3 separate regions of the Homo sapiens genome follow, and all the other regions are linked to region 2. Evidence: fine-mapped expression QTL. A gene starts in region 2. Each other region holds a variant in brackets. All regions are shown on one strand. Distances are between the middles of the regions.

The links. PIP is the estimated chance that this variant, and not a neighbour inherited with it, causes the effect. A credible set is the group of variants that fine-mapping cannot tell apart.
Region 1: its variant is the best candidate, but not a certain one, in a credible set for the expression of FAM117B in prefrontal cortex (CommonMind, PIP 0.58).
Region 3: its variant is the best candidate, but not a certain one, in a credible set for the expression of FAM117B in esophagus mucosa (GTEx, PIP 0.68).

Annotation. Positions count from the first base shown.
Region 1 is chr2:202,743,946-202,749,255 of GRCh38, forward strand. All of the region lies in intron 4 of FAM117B (family with sequence similarity 117 member B), which reads left to right. Among named protein-coding and RNA genes, the nearest start is that of FAM117B, 110 kb to the left of the region's middle. The variant A/G (reference allele first, on the strand shown) is at 2,162.
Region 2 is chr2:202,632,186-202,637,495 of GRCh38, forward strand. FAM117B (family with sequence similarity 117 member B) reads left to right here and starts at 2,784. Exons shown (of 8, transcript NM_173511.4): 1 at 2,784-3,603. The coding sequence starts at 3,003. RefSeq lists silencers at 2,822-3,051, 3,242-3,291, 3,392-3,831.
Region 3 is chr2:202,711,288-202,716,597 of GRCh38, forward strand. All of the region lies in intron 2 of FAM117B (family with sequence similarity 117 member B), which reads left to right. Among named protein-coding and RNA genes, the nearest start is that of FAM117B, 79 kb to the left of the region's middle. RefSeq lists an enhancer at 3,140-3,821. The variant C/G (reference allele first, on the strand shown) is at 2,296.

The DNA.
Region 1 (5,310 bases), 110 kb after region 2:
AACCTATTGAGTGAAGTAATAGCTGAAAACTCCCTCAGTCTTACAAGAGATATGGATATACAGATACAGGAAGTTCAAAGATCCCCAAATAGATTTAACCCAAAAAGGTCTTCTCCAAGTCATATTATAGTCAAACTGTCAAAAGTCAAAGACAGAATTCCAAAAACAAGAGAGAAGTGTCAAGTCACATGTAAGAGAATCCCCGTCTGTCTTAGTTCGTTTGTGTTTCTGTAAAAGAATACCCAAGGCTGGTTTATTTATAAAGGTAAGGGTTTTATTTGGCTTGTGGTTCTGTAGACTGTCCAGAACCTCAGACTGCATCCACTCATGGCGGAAGGTGAAGGGGAGCCAGTGTGTGCAGAGATAACATATCAAGTGAGGAAGCAAGAGAGATAGAGGCATGGTGCCAGACTCTTTTTAACCTCCAGCTATTGCAGGAACTAACGGAGTGAATTCACTTCTTCCCTAGAGAAAAGTATTAATCTATTCATGAGAAATCTGCCTCCATGTCCCAAACACTTCCCGTTACGCCCCACCTTCAATATTGTGCATCAGATTTCAACATGAGGTTTGGAGGAACAAACATCCCAATGATAGCACCATCAGACTAATAGTAAGTTTTTCAGCCAAAACTTTACAGGCCAGGAGAGAATGGGATGATATATTCAAAGTGCTGAAAGAAAAAAGACTGCTAGCCAAAAATATTTTACCCAGGAATAATATCCTTCAAAAATAAAGGAAAGTTGGCTGGGCATGGTGGCTCACGCTTGTAAATCCCAGCACTTTGGGAGTACAAGGTGGGCAGATCACCTGAGATCAGGAGTTCGAGATCAGCCTGGCCAACATGGCAAAACCCCATCTCTACTAAAAATACAAAAAAAATTAGCTGGGCATGGTGGCAGGTTCCTGTAATCCCAGCTACTCGGGAGTCTGAGACAAGAGAATCACTTGAACCCGGGAGGCAGAGGTTGCAATGAGCCAAGATTGCGCCACTGCACTCCAGCCTGGGTGATAGAGTGAGACTCTGTCTCAAAAAAAAAAAAAAAAAAAAAAAGGCTGGGCATGGTCTTTCATGCCTGTAATCCTAGCACTTTGGGAGGCTGAGGCAGGCAGATCTTGTGGTCAGGAGTTTGAGACCAGCCTGGCCAACATGACAAAACCCTGTCTCTACTAAAAATACAAAAATTAACTGGGCGTGGTGGTGCACTCCTGTAGTCCCAGCTACTCAGGTGGCTGAGGCATGAGAATCTCTTGAACCCAGGAGGCAGAGGTTGCAGTGAGTGGAGATTGTGTCACTGCACTCCATCTTGAGTGACAGAGTGAGACTCTGTGTCAAAAAAAAAAAAAAGGCAAAATAAGTCTTTTCTAGACAGGCAAGAACTGAGGGAATTAATCACCACTAGGTCAGCCCTACAAGGAATACTTAAGCAAGTCCTACATCTGGAAATGAAAGGAGGATATCTACCATCATGAAAACACACAGACATGTAAAATTCACTGGTTGAGCAGACATAAATCAGAAAGAGAAAGTCAAATATTATCACTACAAGAAGCCCACCACATCTAAAGGTAAACAATAAAAGAGGAAGAAAGGAACAAAGGATATACAAAACAATCAAAAAAACAATTAAAGTGACTGACAGGAGTAAGTTCTTACCTATCAACAACAACCTTGAATGTAAATGGCTTTAATTAGAAGATGTAGACTGGCTGAATGGGTAATAAAATAAGAACCATTAGTATGCTGCCTGCAAGAAACTCACTTCCCCTGTAAAAACACATATTGATTTAAAGTGAAGGGATGGAAAAGGCTATTCCACGCAAATGGAAACCAAAAGTATGCAGGATTCGCTGTATTTGTATAACACAAAATAGACATCAAGTCAAAAACCAAAAAGACAAAGAAGGTTATTATATGTAATGATAAAGGGATTAATTCAGCAAGAGGATATAACAATTGTAAATATATATGCACCTTACACCAGAGCACCAAGTGTATAATGCAAACAGTGTTAGAGCTTAAAGAGAGAAATAGACCCCAATGCAATAATAGTTGGAGACTTCAAGACCTCACTTTCAGCATCAAACAGATCATCTATATAGAAAGTCAAGAAAGAAACATTGCACTTAATCTGCACTGTAGGTCAAATTGAACTAATAG[A/G]CATTTACAGAATTTTTCATCCAATAGCTACAGAATACACATACACATATCAGCACATGGAACATTCTCCAGGATAGACCATATGTTAGGCCCCAAAACATATCTCAACAAATTTTTAAATATTGAAGTTATCAAGTATCTTCTCATACCACAGACTAGAACTAGGAATCACAGACTAGAACTAGGAATCAGTAACAAGAAGGAAATTTGGAAACTGTGCAGATACATGGAAGTTAACATGCTCCTCAATGACCATTGGTCAATGAAGAAATAAAGGAAATAAAAAAAAATTTCTTGAAGCAAATGAAAATGCAAGTACAACATACCAAAACCTATGAGATACAGTATAAGAATTGCTAAGAGGAAAGTATATACCAATAAATGCCTCCATTAAAAAAAAAGATTTCAAATAAACAATCTGAAGAGTGTACCTCAAGGAACTAGAAAAGTAAGAACAAACCAAACCGAAAAGTATTAGAAGAAAGATTATTAAAGATAAGCGTGAACAACTATACACTAACAAATTGGAAAACCTAGAGGAAATGGGTAATTTCATTGACACATACAGCCTACCAAGATTGAACCAGGAAATAGTAGAAAACCTGAACAAACCATGTTACTGGTTATGAGATTGAATCAGTAATAAAAATTGTCCCAACAAAGAAAAGCCCAGAACTAAATGGTTTTACTGCTGAATTTTAACAGACATAAAATAGAACTAGCACCAGTTCTTCTCAAACTATTGCAAACAATTATAGAGGAAGGAGTTTCTCCTAACTCATTTTATGAGGCCAGCATTACCCTGTACCAAAACCAGACACAGGCACAACAGCCACCACCGGAAAAAAAAACAAAACAAAAAAAAACACAAAAACCCACTATGGGCCAGTATCCCTATTGAACATAGATGCAAAAATCCTGAGCAAAATACTGGCAAACCAGATCTAACAACACATCAAAAAGGTAATATAGCAAGATTAAGTGGGATTTATTCCAGTGATGCAAAGATGGTTCAACATAGACAAATCAATAAATGTGATATATCACATCAACAGAATGTAGGACAAAAACCAACAATCATTGTAATAGATACAGAAAAACCATGTGATAAAATTCAGCACTCATCCATGGTAAAAACTCTCAACAAATTAGGCATAGAAGGAAAATACCTTGACATAATAAAAGCAATAGGTGACAAACCCACAGCTAAATTGTACTGAATGGGGAAAAGCAGAAAGCCTTTCCTCTAAGAACTGAAACACGACAAGGGTGCCCATTTTCACCAGTTATTCAGTATAGTACTGGGGGTCCTAGCCAGAGCAACCAGATGAAAGAAAAAAAAGGCATCCAAACTGGAAGACAGAAAGTCAAATTTTTCTTTACAAATGACATGATCTTATATATGGAAAAACCTACCCATTCCAATTTATCTGTACATAAAATAAGAACCAAAAGACTACAAAAAAAATCACAAAACTGATAAATGAATTTACTAAAGTCGCTGGATACAAAGTCAATATATAAAAATGAGTAGTGTTTCTATACACTCACAGTGAACTAGCTAAAAAAGAAATAAAGAAAGCAATTCAGGTTACAATAGCTAAAAAAGAACAACAATAAAAAACCCTGAGAATAAATTTAACCAAGGAAATGAAAGATATCTACAACAAAAACTGCAAACACTAATGAAAGAAATTGAAGAGGACACAAATGGAAAGATATCCTATGTTCATAGGAAGAATTCATGTTGTTAAAATGACCATACTATCCAAAGCAATCTATAGATTGATTGCAATTAAAATATTAATTGTTTATGTTAAAGTACCAATGACATTCTTCACAGAAATAGAAGAAACAATCCTAAGATTTGAATGGAACCACAAAAGTCCCCAAATAGAGCCATACAAAGCAAAAAGAACAAAGCTAGAGGCATCATACTACCTGACTTCAAAATATATTACACAAAGCTATAGTCATCCAAACAGCATGGATCCACGGAACAGAATAAAGAACCCAGAAATAAATTCATGCATTTCAGCCAGCTGATTTTTCACAGAAGTGCTAAGAACATACACTGGAGGAAAGAACATCTTCAATAAATAGTGCTGGGAAAACTGATTTATGCAGAAGGATGAAAGTAGACCATTATCTCTTACCACATATAAAAATCGACCTAAAATGGATTAAAGCCTTAAAGGTAAGACCCAAAACTACAAAACTCCTGGAAGAAAACATAGGGGAAATGTTTCAGCACATTGGTCTAGGCAAAGATTTTATGGCTAGGACTACAAAAGCCTAGGTAACAAAAAAATATATACAAATGAGACTATATTAAATTTAAAAGCTTCTGTACAGCAAAGGAAACAACAGAGTGAAGAGAAAACCTGTTGAATGGAGGAAAATATTTGCAAACTATTCATCCAACAAGGAACTAACATCGAGAATCTTCAAGGAACTCAATAGCAAAAAACAACAACAACAAAGAATCCCATTAAAAAATGGGCAATCTGACTAGACATTTCTTAGAAGAGACAGATTAAATGTCTGACTAGACATTTCTCAAAAAAAGACATAGATTAAATGGCCAACAAATATATATTTTAAAAAGTTCATCTTTACTAGTCATCAGGGAAATGCAAATCAAATCCAAATCCATAATGAGATATCACCTCACCCCTGTTAGAATGGCTGTTATCAAAAAGACAAAAATTAACATATCAAAGGGATACCCTGCGCTCACATGTTTATCGTAGCCACTCTCGGTAGCCATTGTATGGAATCAACCTAAGTGCCCATCAACAGTTGAATGAATAAAGAAAAATGTGGTTGTGTGTGTGCGTGTACATGTGTATACATAACTGATGAGTATTTCATTGTGTATTCTACAATATAAAAACTGAAGGAATGAGAGCACTGGTAGTTTATGAAACTTAGCAAAGGTTTAGAAAAAATAAATCCAATTTAGAGAGTTTCATGAAACATATATATTCATAGAGTGCAGATAAAAATGTGAGGAGTAAAAATATTTTACTATTTGGTTTGGCATTATGAATCAAAGTCCTGAAAAATCTTTACTATCCTTTATGTCCCCCCAGGAAAATAGCTCCTCACCCCAGGAATTTATTCTAAGGAAGTATTTACATATGTGT
Region 2 (5,310 bases):
AGGACATTTTTTTAAGCTCTTTGATCTAGTGAAATCAGTTGATTTAATGAAATCTAATAAGATCTGCTGAAATCAGTTCTTCAGCTCAGGCAAGCTAAAAGCCTCTTGCCACCAACAAAGATGTCTCTAGTTTGGTGATATCCAAATCAATTGATCAGGAAGCTAAGGACACCAGGGCTGCAGGACTTCCTTTGGATTAATTCAGTAAATATGTATTGAGGTCCTACTTTGTGCAAGACAAAATACCACATACCACATACAGCCTCCATGAGTTATTTATTTCAGAGTCTGGCTCTGTCGTCCAGGCTGCAGTGCAGTGGCGAGATCTCCGTTCACTGCAGCCTCTGACTTCCGGGTTTCAAGCTATTCTCTTGCCTCAGCCTCCTGAGTAGCTGGGATTATAGGCATGTGCCATCATGCCTGGCTAATTTTGTATTTTTAGTAGAGACAGGGTTTCGCCATGTTGGCCAGGCTGATCTCGAACACCTGACCTCAAGTGATCTGCCTTGGCCTCCCAAAGTGCTGGGATTACATCCTTATTTAAAGGCATATCTTGTCTATCCATGCTTTTCAGACCAGACTTGGCTCTTTGCATGGATCCTGCTGGCAGTTTCCTGTATGTTCCTATCCAGTGAGAAGCTGTTTTTGGCCTCACACCAGGCTGTAGGGGCCAGATAGTGACGTCAGATCTATCCAGAGCACCAGCCAACTTAAGGCAGGTTCCTGGGCTAAGGGGCTGGGGCTTTCTCTGTGGAGGGGGAGAGAGGAGGAGAAAGGGGAATGGATGGTAAGGAGAGATGTGGGTCTCTGAATCACATGGAGACTCTGGAAGTGCTGACCATCTTCTACACACCACATTCTCATATCATCCTTGGTTAATAATCATAACAACAGTATGAAGCACATGGTACTGTTTAACTGCATTTTACAGATAAGGAGACTGGCTAGTGATCCACTCAAGGTCACAGAGTAAGTGGTGGTCATGGGATTTTAATTTCCTCTCTAGGTCTTTTTTTTTTAATTTTTTTTTTTTTTAAGACAGAGTTTCGCTCTTGTTGCCCAGGCTGGAGTGCAATGGAACGATCTCGGCTCCTTCCAACCTCTGCCTCCCGGGTTCAAGCGATTCTCCTGCCTCAGCCTCCCGAGTAGCTGAGATTACAGGCATGTGCCACCACGCCCGGCTAATTTTGTATTTTTAGTAGAGACGGGGTTTCCTCCATGTTGGTCAAGCTGGTCTCGAACTCCCGACCTCAGGTGATCCGCCCGCCTCAGCCTCTCAAAGTGCTGGGATTACAGGCATGAGCCACCACACCCGGCCTCCTCTCTAGGTCTTTAAAAGCCTTCCACCTCACGCCTGTAATTCCAGCATTTTTGGAGGCCGAGGTGGGCGGATCATGAGATCAAGAGATCAAGACCACCCTGGCCAACATGGTGAAACCGCCTCTTTACTAAAAACAGAAAAATTACGGGGCGTGGCGGCACGCGCCTGTAATCCCAGCTACTTGGGAGGCGGAGGCAGGAGAATTGCTTGAACGCGGGAGGCGGAGGTTGCACTGAGCCGAGATTCGAGCCAGTGCACTCCGCCACTGCACTCCAGCCTAGGTGACAGAGAGAGACTTCTTCTCAAAAAAAAAAAAAAAAGGCCTTCCACCACCGCGCAAAGGGACCCAGTAGGATTTCAGGTCCAGAGTGAATCATACTATGCCCTCCACTCCCACATTTTTACACGACGAAATCTGTCTAGCATGTACAACTAATAAAAATAGTAGAGGGAAAAGAGGTCATGGATAGGCAATTTATAGCCAGACAGGTGGGAGTGTAGGTTTTGGCTCCACCATTTTTTATTTTCTTGATGAGGAGCCCTTTAGGTCATTTTAGAAATAGTGTCACTGCCTGCCTTCCCGAGTCTTTGCCACACCAAAGACTTGTTTCCTCCGCTAGACAAAAATATGGATGGCTGTCCCAGTTCTGTCTCAAACAATGATCGTGTAGAATCAAATAAGGCCCTCTGTAAACTATAGCACTTTACAAACTGGTAAGGTAGCAGCCATCCTTCCAAGGTATCAGGGAACAGCGAAGCAGCTGATTAAAATAGTCTTGATTACTTGAGATACAGGAGGGTAGGAATAACATGTGGTAACTGAACTCTATAGATACTATCTAAAATCGCATTCTAACAGGCAAGTTTAATCTTTCTGAGATTTGCCTCTTTGTAGAGCTCTAAAAAATAAAAGGAGAGGGGCGTAAAATGCCAGTAAGATTAGTTAAATTTCTTCTCCTTTTGAGCCCTGCCCATAGGTAGATGGAATTAGGGCAGAACAAAAACATTAAGAATAAAAGCCCGAACGAGATGCGCGTACAGGTGAACACAAGTGAACACTGGGGTAAGGAAATGAGTTATGCGGAAAAGGCTTCAGACCATCCCTGGGAACTGCTCCGGGTCTGGACATTTCCTTTGGCAACCTTCCAGAGTCTGAGTCCCCAGGGCTCCCCCCGGCGGGAAAGGAAAGGCGCGCGTGGCTAGGCGCGCGCGTACACGGGCACTCACGTGTACACACACACGCGCGCACACTACACATACACACAGGGCCCATTTCCTCCGCTCCCTCCCCGCGGGGGGCGGGTCTCTTTCTCTTTAAAGAGCAGACGGTCTCCGCGCACACCCAGGCTCTCAAGGCCTCGGGGGCCCGGGACCCGAGCTGCTCGTAGCCAATGGGAGCAGTGGAGCGGCTCGAGCGCGGCTGACGCTGCACCAATGGGCGATCGTGGGGGGCGGGGGCAGCAGAGGAGACACTATTGTTGATGAGGAGCGGCGGCGGCGGCGGCGGCGGCTGCACCACCTCGTTGCTGCCTGCCCCGGCCCGGTCTCCCCCTGCACCCCGGAGTCCGGCTTCGTCACCCCGTCTTGGGGGGCCTGCCCTCCGGCCTCGAGAATCCTCCCCCTGCAGCCCAACAACAACAAAACCCCCCGTCTCGCCCAGTCACCGGGGAGGGGGGGGACCATGTCCCAGCGGGTGAGGCGCAATGGGTCCCCCACGCCGGCCGGCTCCCTTGGGGGTGGTGCGGTGGCCACGGCCGGGGGACCCGGGAGCCGCTTGCAGCCCATGAGGGCGACGGTTCCGTTCCAGCTGAAGCAGCAGCAGCAGCAGCAACATGGCAGCCCCACGCGGAGCGGCGGCGGCGGCGGCGGCAACAACAACGGTGGCTGCTGTGGTGGCGCCTCAGGCCCCGCAGGCGGCGGCGGCGGCGGTGGCCCGCGCACCGCCTCGCGCAGCACCAGCCCCACGCGCGGCGGCGGGAACGCGGCCGCGCGCACCAGCCCCACGGTGGCCACGCAGACGGGCGCGTCCGCGACGTCCACGCGAGGCACCAGCCCCACGCGCAGCGCCGCGCCTGGAGCTCGCGGGAGCCCCCCACGGCCGCCGCCGCCGCCGCCGCTGCTGGGCACCGTGTCGTCGCCCAGCTCGTCGCCCACCCACCTGTGGACCGGCGAGGTGAGCGCGGCCCCACCCCCAGCCCGCGTCCGGCATCGGAGGAGGTCTCCGGAGCAGAGCCGAAGCTCGCCGGAGAAGAGGAGCCCCAGCGCCCCGGTTTGCAAAGCAGGTAAGTGCTGGGGGTCGCGCAGCAAGGGGGAGGCGGCTGCGGGAAGGGGTCCCGGGCGCGCGCTGCAATCGCGCGGGGACTGCAGAGCTGCCGCGGAGCCCGGGTGGCTGGGGGCGGGGCTGGGGGCGGTGCCGGGCGGTGGGGGACCCGGCAGTGCGGCCCCGCCTTTCCCGGGCCTACCCTACGCCCCGCCCGCCCGCCCGCCTCATTCACCCCTCTGCCCGCCCCGCACGGCTCCCTGGTGGTGGAGGTGCAGCGGCTAAACCTTGGGCTTGAGCTGATGAGTGTTAATGATAAACCTGGCTTCCTGGCCTTACTCCTGGAGGAGTCGTTACTGCTTACCCTCCCTTGAGGGTGAGGCTAGGAGTGGTTTGTCACTTTGTTTTAGGGACAAGGTTAATGTTGGCATAGCCCATATCTGCTGCTGCTAAGTATTTCTGTTCACAAAACAGTTTCAGATCTGGGGTACTGAATGCATTAGCAGTGGCAGATTTGGATCACTGAACAGAGGAGGCTGAGAACCGTGTTTTAGCATTTCCTAAGACTTGATAAATGGGTAGCAAGAAGTGAAAATTAAACAAGATTCCTTAGGAAGGTTTATGGGTTTTGTCTGAGGCTCTGGGTGTATTTCTGATTTTGTGTACTGATTCTGTGTTTTGAATGTAGAAAAACAGAATCCAGTGTTTTGTCTCCATCTTGTTATTGTTTTAGGGAGCTAACATTCGTTGTTTTTCTGTTTACCTGGAAGCTTTCTTGGGGAAGGTCCTGAATGGAGCTGTTGGGTGCCAATGGAGTCATTCATAAAGAGTAACTCAAAAGAGAAATTCAAATTGTGGGAAGTGGAAAGGAATAAAATTTATAATCTTGTTGCCTTAAGGAAAGAAATGGGTGGTTTTTACTTACGTATTCATTTTTGTCAACATATATCTTTGTCTTTCCTTGTCTGGGGAACTTCTGTTAGAATTTTCCAGGCAGAATGGTTGGGAATTTCAGGAAACAAATTCAGATGAAATAGTTTCCGAAATGGAAGGAATAGGATGACTCTTTCTTACTATTTATTTTATGAAAGTTTTAGATAATACTTATTTAGAGAGAATTGCCCTGGAAAATGATGAATAGTATTTTCTTTTTTTGAGACAGAGTTTCTGTTGCCCAGGCTGGAGTGCAGTTACACGATCTCGGCTTACTGCAGCCTCCAACTCCCGGGTTCAAACGATTCTGCCTCAGTCTCCTGAGTAGCTGGGATTACAGGCGACCGCCACCATGCCCGGCTAATTTTTGTATTTTTAGTAGAGACAGGGTTTCACCATGTTGGCCAGGCTGGTCTCGAACTCCTGACCTCAGGTGAAACGCCCGCCTTGGCTTCCCAGAATGCTGGGATTACAGGCATGCGCCACTGCGCCCGGCCCGAATAGTGTTTTCTAATTAGAACCAGAGCACTGTTTTATTTATGTATTTATTTTTATTTATATTTTTATTTATTTTTTGAGACGGAGTCTTGCTCAGCTGCCCAGGCTGGAGTGCAGTTATGTGATCTCGGCTCACTGCAACCATGGTCTCCTGGGTTCAAGCGATTCTCCTATCTCAGCCTCCCGAGTAGCTGGGATTACAGGCACCCGCCATCATGCCCGGCTAATTTTTGTATTTTAGTAGAGATGGGGTTTCACCATGTTTGCCAGGATGGTTTGGAACTCCTGACCTTATGTG
Region 3 (5,310 bases), 79 kb after region 2:
ATTTGTGTTTTTCTGATGAACAGTGATTGAGCACTTTTACATATACCTGTTTGTCATTTGTATGTCTTTTGAGAAATATCTATTGAGATATTTTGCCCATTTTAAATTGGATTATTAGAGTTTTGCCTATTGAGCTCCTTTTATATTTTGGCCATTAATCCCTTGTTGGATGGATAATTTGCAAATATTTTCTCCCATTCTTTGGGTTGTCTTTTTCACTCTGTTGATTGTTTCCATTACTGTGCAGAAGCTTTTAACTTGATATGACCCTATTTGTCCATTTCACTTTGGTTGCCTTTGCTTGTGGGTTATTACTCAAGAAATCTTTGCCCAGACAAACATCATGGAGAGTTTTCCCAATGTTTTCTTGTAGTAGTTTCATAGTTTGAGGTCTCAGATTTAAATCTTTAATCCATTTTGATTTCATTTTTGTATAAGGTGAGAGATAGGGTCTAGTTTCATTCTTCTGCATAAGAATAACCAGTTTCCCCAGCACCGTTTATTGAACAGACTGTCCTTTCCCCATGTATGTTCTTGGCATCTTTGTCAAAACTGAGTTCACTGTAGATGTATGGATTTATCTCTGGATTCTCTCTTCTATTCCACTGACCTCTATGTGTCTGTTTGTATGCCAATACCATGCCATTTTGGTTACTGTCATTCTGTAGTATAATTTGAAGTCAGTAATGTGATTCTTCCAGTTTTGTTCTTTTTGCTCAGGATAACTTGGGCTATTCTGGGTCTTTTGTGGATCCTTATAAATTTTAGGATTTTTTTTTCCATTTCTGTGAAGAATGTTATGGTATTTTGGTAGAGATTGCATTAAATCTGTAGATTGCTTTGGCTAGTATGAACATTTTAACAATATCTATTCTTTTAATCCATGAACATGGGATTTCTTTCTTTTTTTGTGTGTCTTTAATTTCTTCACTCAGTGTTTTACAGTTTTCAATGAAGAGATCTTTCACTTCTTTGGTTAATTCCTAGGTGTTTTATTTTATTTGTAGCTATTGTAAATGGAATTACTTTGCTGATTTCTTTTTCAGATTATTTGCTGTTGGCATATAGAAATATCACTGATTTTTGTATGTTGATTTTGTATCCTGCAACCTTGCTGAATTTATCAGCTCTCTTTTTTTTTTTTTTTTTTTTTTGTGCGTGTGGAGGCTTTAGGTGTTTCCAAATATAAGATCATATTATCTGCAAACAAGGATAATTTGACTTCTTCCATTACAGTTTGGGTGCCTATTATTTCATTCTCTTGTCCAGTTGCTCTGTCTAGCTCTTCCAGTACTATAATGAGTAACAGTGGTGAAAGTGGGCATCCTTGTCATATTCCCTATCTTACAGGAAAGGGTTTCCATTTTTCCCTATTCAATATGACACTAGCTATGGGTCTGCCATAAATGACTTGTATTATGTGGAGATATGTTCCTTCTGTACCCAGTTTTTTGAAGGTTTTTATCATGAAGAGATGTTGGATGTTATCAAATGCATTTTCAGCATCAAAATGATCATATAGTTTTTGTCTTCATTCTGTTAATGTGATATATCACACTGATTTGCATTTGTTGAACCATCCTTGCATCCCTGGGATAAATTCCATTTGGTCATAATAAATGATCTTTTTAATGTGTTGTTGAATTCAGTTTGCTAGTATTTTGTTAAATTTTGCATCAATATTCATCAGTGATATTGGCCTATAGTTTTCTTTCTTTGAAGTGTTTGGTTTTGGTAACAGGGTAATACTGGCCTCGTAGAATGAGTTTGGAAATATTCCCTCCTCTGTTTTTCAGAATAGTTTTAGTAGGATTGGTGTTAGTTCTTCTTTAAATGTTTGGTGGAATTCAGCACTGAAGCCATTGGGTCCTGGGATTTTCTTTGCCGGGGTGCTTTTTATTATGGTTTTGATTTTGTTACTTGTTATTGGTCTGTTCAGGTTTTGGATTTATTCATAGTTAAATATTGTTAGGTTGTGTGTGTCTAGGAATTTATCCATTTATTCTAGATTTTACAACGTATTGGCATATAGTTGCTCATAGTAGCCAATAATGATCCTTTGAATTTCTGTGGTATCAGTTGTAATATCTACTTTTCCCTCTCTGATTTTATTTATTTAGATCTCTCTTTTTCTCTTAGTCTGGCTAAAGATTTGTCAATTTTATCTTTTCAAAACCCACCTTTTTGTTTTGTTGATCTTTTGTATTGTTGTCTTCATGTCAAATTCATTTATTTCTGTTCTGATCTCTATTATTTTTTCTGTTAATTTTGTGTTTGGTTTGCTCCTTTCTGGTT[C/G]TTTAAGATGCATTATTAGGTTGTTTATTTCAAGTTTTTCTTGTTTTTTGATGTAGGCACTTTTAGCTGTAAAATTCCCTCTTAGTGCTACTTTCACTGTATCCCATAGATTTTGGTATGTTGTGTTTCCATTATTTTTTTTGAGAAGGAGTTTCGCTCTGTTGCTCAGGTTGGAGTGCAGTGGTGTGATCTTGGCTCACTGCAACCTCCACCTCCTGGGTTCAAACAATTCTCTTGCCTCAGCCTCCCAAGTAGCTGGGATTTCAGGCACATGCCACCATGCCCAACTAATTTTTGTATTTTTAGTAGAGATGAGGTTTCACCATGTTGGCCAGGTTGGTCTCAAACTCTCAACTTCAGGTGATCCACCTGCCTTGGCCTCCCCAAGTGCTAGGATTACAGGTGTGAGCCACTGCGCCTGGCCCTCCATTATCATTTGTTGTAAGAAATTTTTAAATTTCCTTCTTAATTTCTTCATTGACCCATTGGTCATTCAGGAGCATATTGTTTAATTTTCATTTTTTTTTATAGTTTCCAAAATTCCTCATTATTGATATCTAGTTTTATTCCACTGTGGTCAGTGAAGATGCTTGATATTATTTCAGATTTTTCAGAATGTGTTAAGACTTTTTTTTGTGACCTAACATAGTCTGTCCTTGAGAATGATCCATGTGCTGAGGAAAGAATGTGTATTCTACAGCTGTTGGTTGAAATGTTCTGCAAATATCTATTAGGTCCATTTGATTTATAGTATAGATTGAGTCTGATTTTTTTGTTGTTGATTTTATGTATAAATGAACTGTTCAGTACTGAAAGTGGGGTGGTGAAGTCTCCAGCTGTTATTGTATTGGGGTCCATCTCTATTTAGATCTAATAATATTTGCTTTATATATTTGTGTGCTCCAGTGTTGGGTGCATATATATTTACAGTTGTTATATCTTTTTTTTTTCTTTTTTTTTTTTTTTTTATTGATCATTCTTGGGTGTTTCTCGCAGAGGGGGATTTGGCAGGGTCATAGGACAATAGTGGAGGGAAGGTCAGCAGATAAACAAGTGAACAAAGGTCTCTGGTTTTCCTAGGCAGAGGACCCTGCGGCCTTCCGCAGTGTTTGTGTCCCTGGGTACTTGAGATTAGGGAGTGGTGATGACTCTTTAACTAGCATGCTGCCTTCAAGCATCTGTTTAACAAAGCACATCTTGCACCGCCCTTAATCCATTTAACCCTGAGTGGACACAGCACATGTTTCAGAGAGCACAGGGTTGGGGGTAAGGTCATAGATCAACAGGATCCCAAGGCAGAAGAATTTTTCTTAGTACAGAACAAAATGAAAAGTCTCCCATGTCTACTTCTTTCTACACAGACACAGCAACCATCCGATTTCTCAGTCTTTTCCCCACCTTTCCCCCTTTTCTATTCCACAAAACTGCCATTGTCATCATGGCCCGTTCTCAATGAGCTGTTGGGTACACCTCCCAGACGGGGTGGTGGCGGGGCAGAGGGGCTCCTCACTTCCCAGAAGGGGCAGCCGGGCAGAGGCGCCCCCCACCTCCCGGACGGGGCGGCTGGCCGGGCAGGGGCTGACCCCCCACCTCCCTCCCGGACGGGTCGGCTGGCCGGGCGGGGGCTGACCCCACACCTCCCTCCCGGACGGGGCGGCTGGCCGGGCGGGGGCTGACCCCCCACCTCCCTCCGGGACGGGGCGGCTGGCCTGGCGGGGGCTGACCCCCACCTCCCTCCCGGACGGGGTGGCTGCCGGGCGGAGACGCTCCTCACTTCCCAGACGGGGTGGCTGCCAGGCGGAGGGGCTCCTCACTTCTCAGACGGGGCGGCCGGGCAGAGACGCTCCTCACCTCCCAGACGGGGTTGCGGCCGGGCAGAGGCGCTCCTCACGTCCCAGACAGGGTGGCGGGGCAGAGGCGCTCCCCACATCTCAGACGATGGGCGGCCGGGCAGAGACGCTCCTCACTTCCTAGATGTGATGGTGGCCGGGAAGAGGCGCTCCTCACTTCCCAGACTGGGCAGCCAGGCAGAGGGGCTCCTCACATCCCAGATGATGGGCGGCCAGGCAGAGACGCTCCTCACTTCCCAGATGGCATGGCGGCCGGGCAGAGGCTGCAATCTCGGCACTTTGGGAGGCCAAGGCAGGCGGCTGGGAGGTGGAGGTTGTAGCAAGCCGAGATCAGGCCACCGCACTCCAGCCTGGGCACCATTGAGCACTGAGTGAATGAGACTCCGTCTGCAATCCCGGCACCTCGGGAGGCCGAGGCTGGCGGATCACTTGCGGTTAGGAGATGGAGACCAGCCCGGCCAACACAGCAAAACCCCGTCTCCACCAAAAAAATACGAAAACCAGTCAGGCGTGGTGGCGCGTGCCTGCAATCGCAGGCACTCGGCAGGCTGAGGCAGGAGAATCAGGCAGGGAGGTTGCAGTGAGCCGAGATGGCAGCAGTACAGTCCAGCTTTGGCTCGGCATCAGAGGGAGACCGTGGAAAGGGGAGAGGGAGAGGGAGAGGATATCTTTTTGTTGAATCGACACCTTTATCATTATGTAGTGACCTTCTTTGTCTCTTCTTACAGTTTTTGTCTTCAAATCTGTGTTGTCTAAATATAGCTACTCCTGCTCTTTTTTGGTTTCCATTTGCAAACAACATCTTTTTCCATCCCTTTTTTTTTCAGCGTATATAGTTTTTCATAAATGAAATGTGTTTCTTGTAGGCAGCAGATCATTGGGTGTGTTGTTTTTATTCATGTAGCCACTGTGTGTTTTGTTTGGAGAGTTTAGTCCATTTTCATTCAATGTTGTTATTGATGAGTGAAGACTTACTCCTGCCATTTTGTTATTTGTTTTCTGGTTGTTTTGTGGTCTTCCTTCTTTCCTTCCTTCCTGTCTTCCTTTTAGTGAAGGTGATTTTCTCTGGTGGTATGATTTATTTTCTTGCTTTTTATTTTTAGTGTATCTGTTGTTGTATGTTTTTTGATTTGAGGTTACTACAAGGCCCCGTTTGAATAAACTT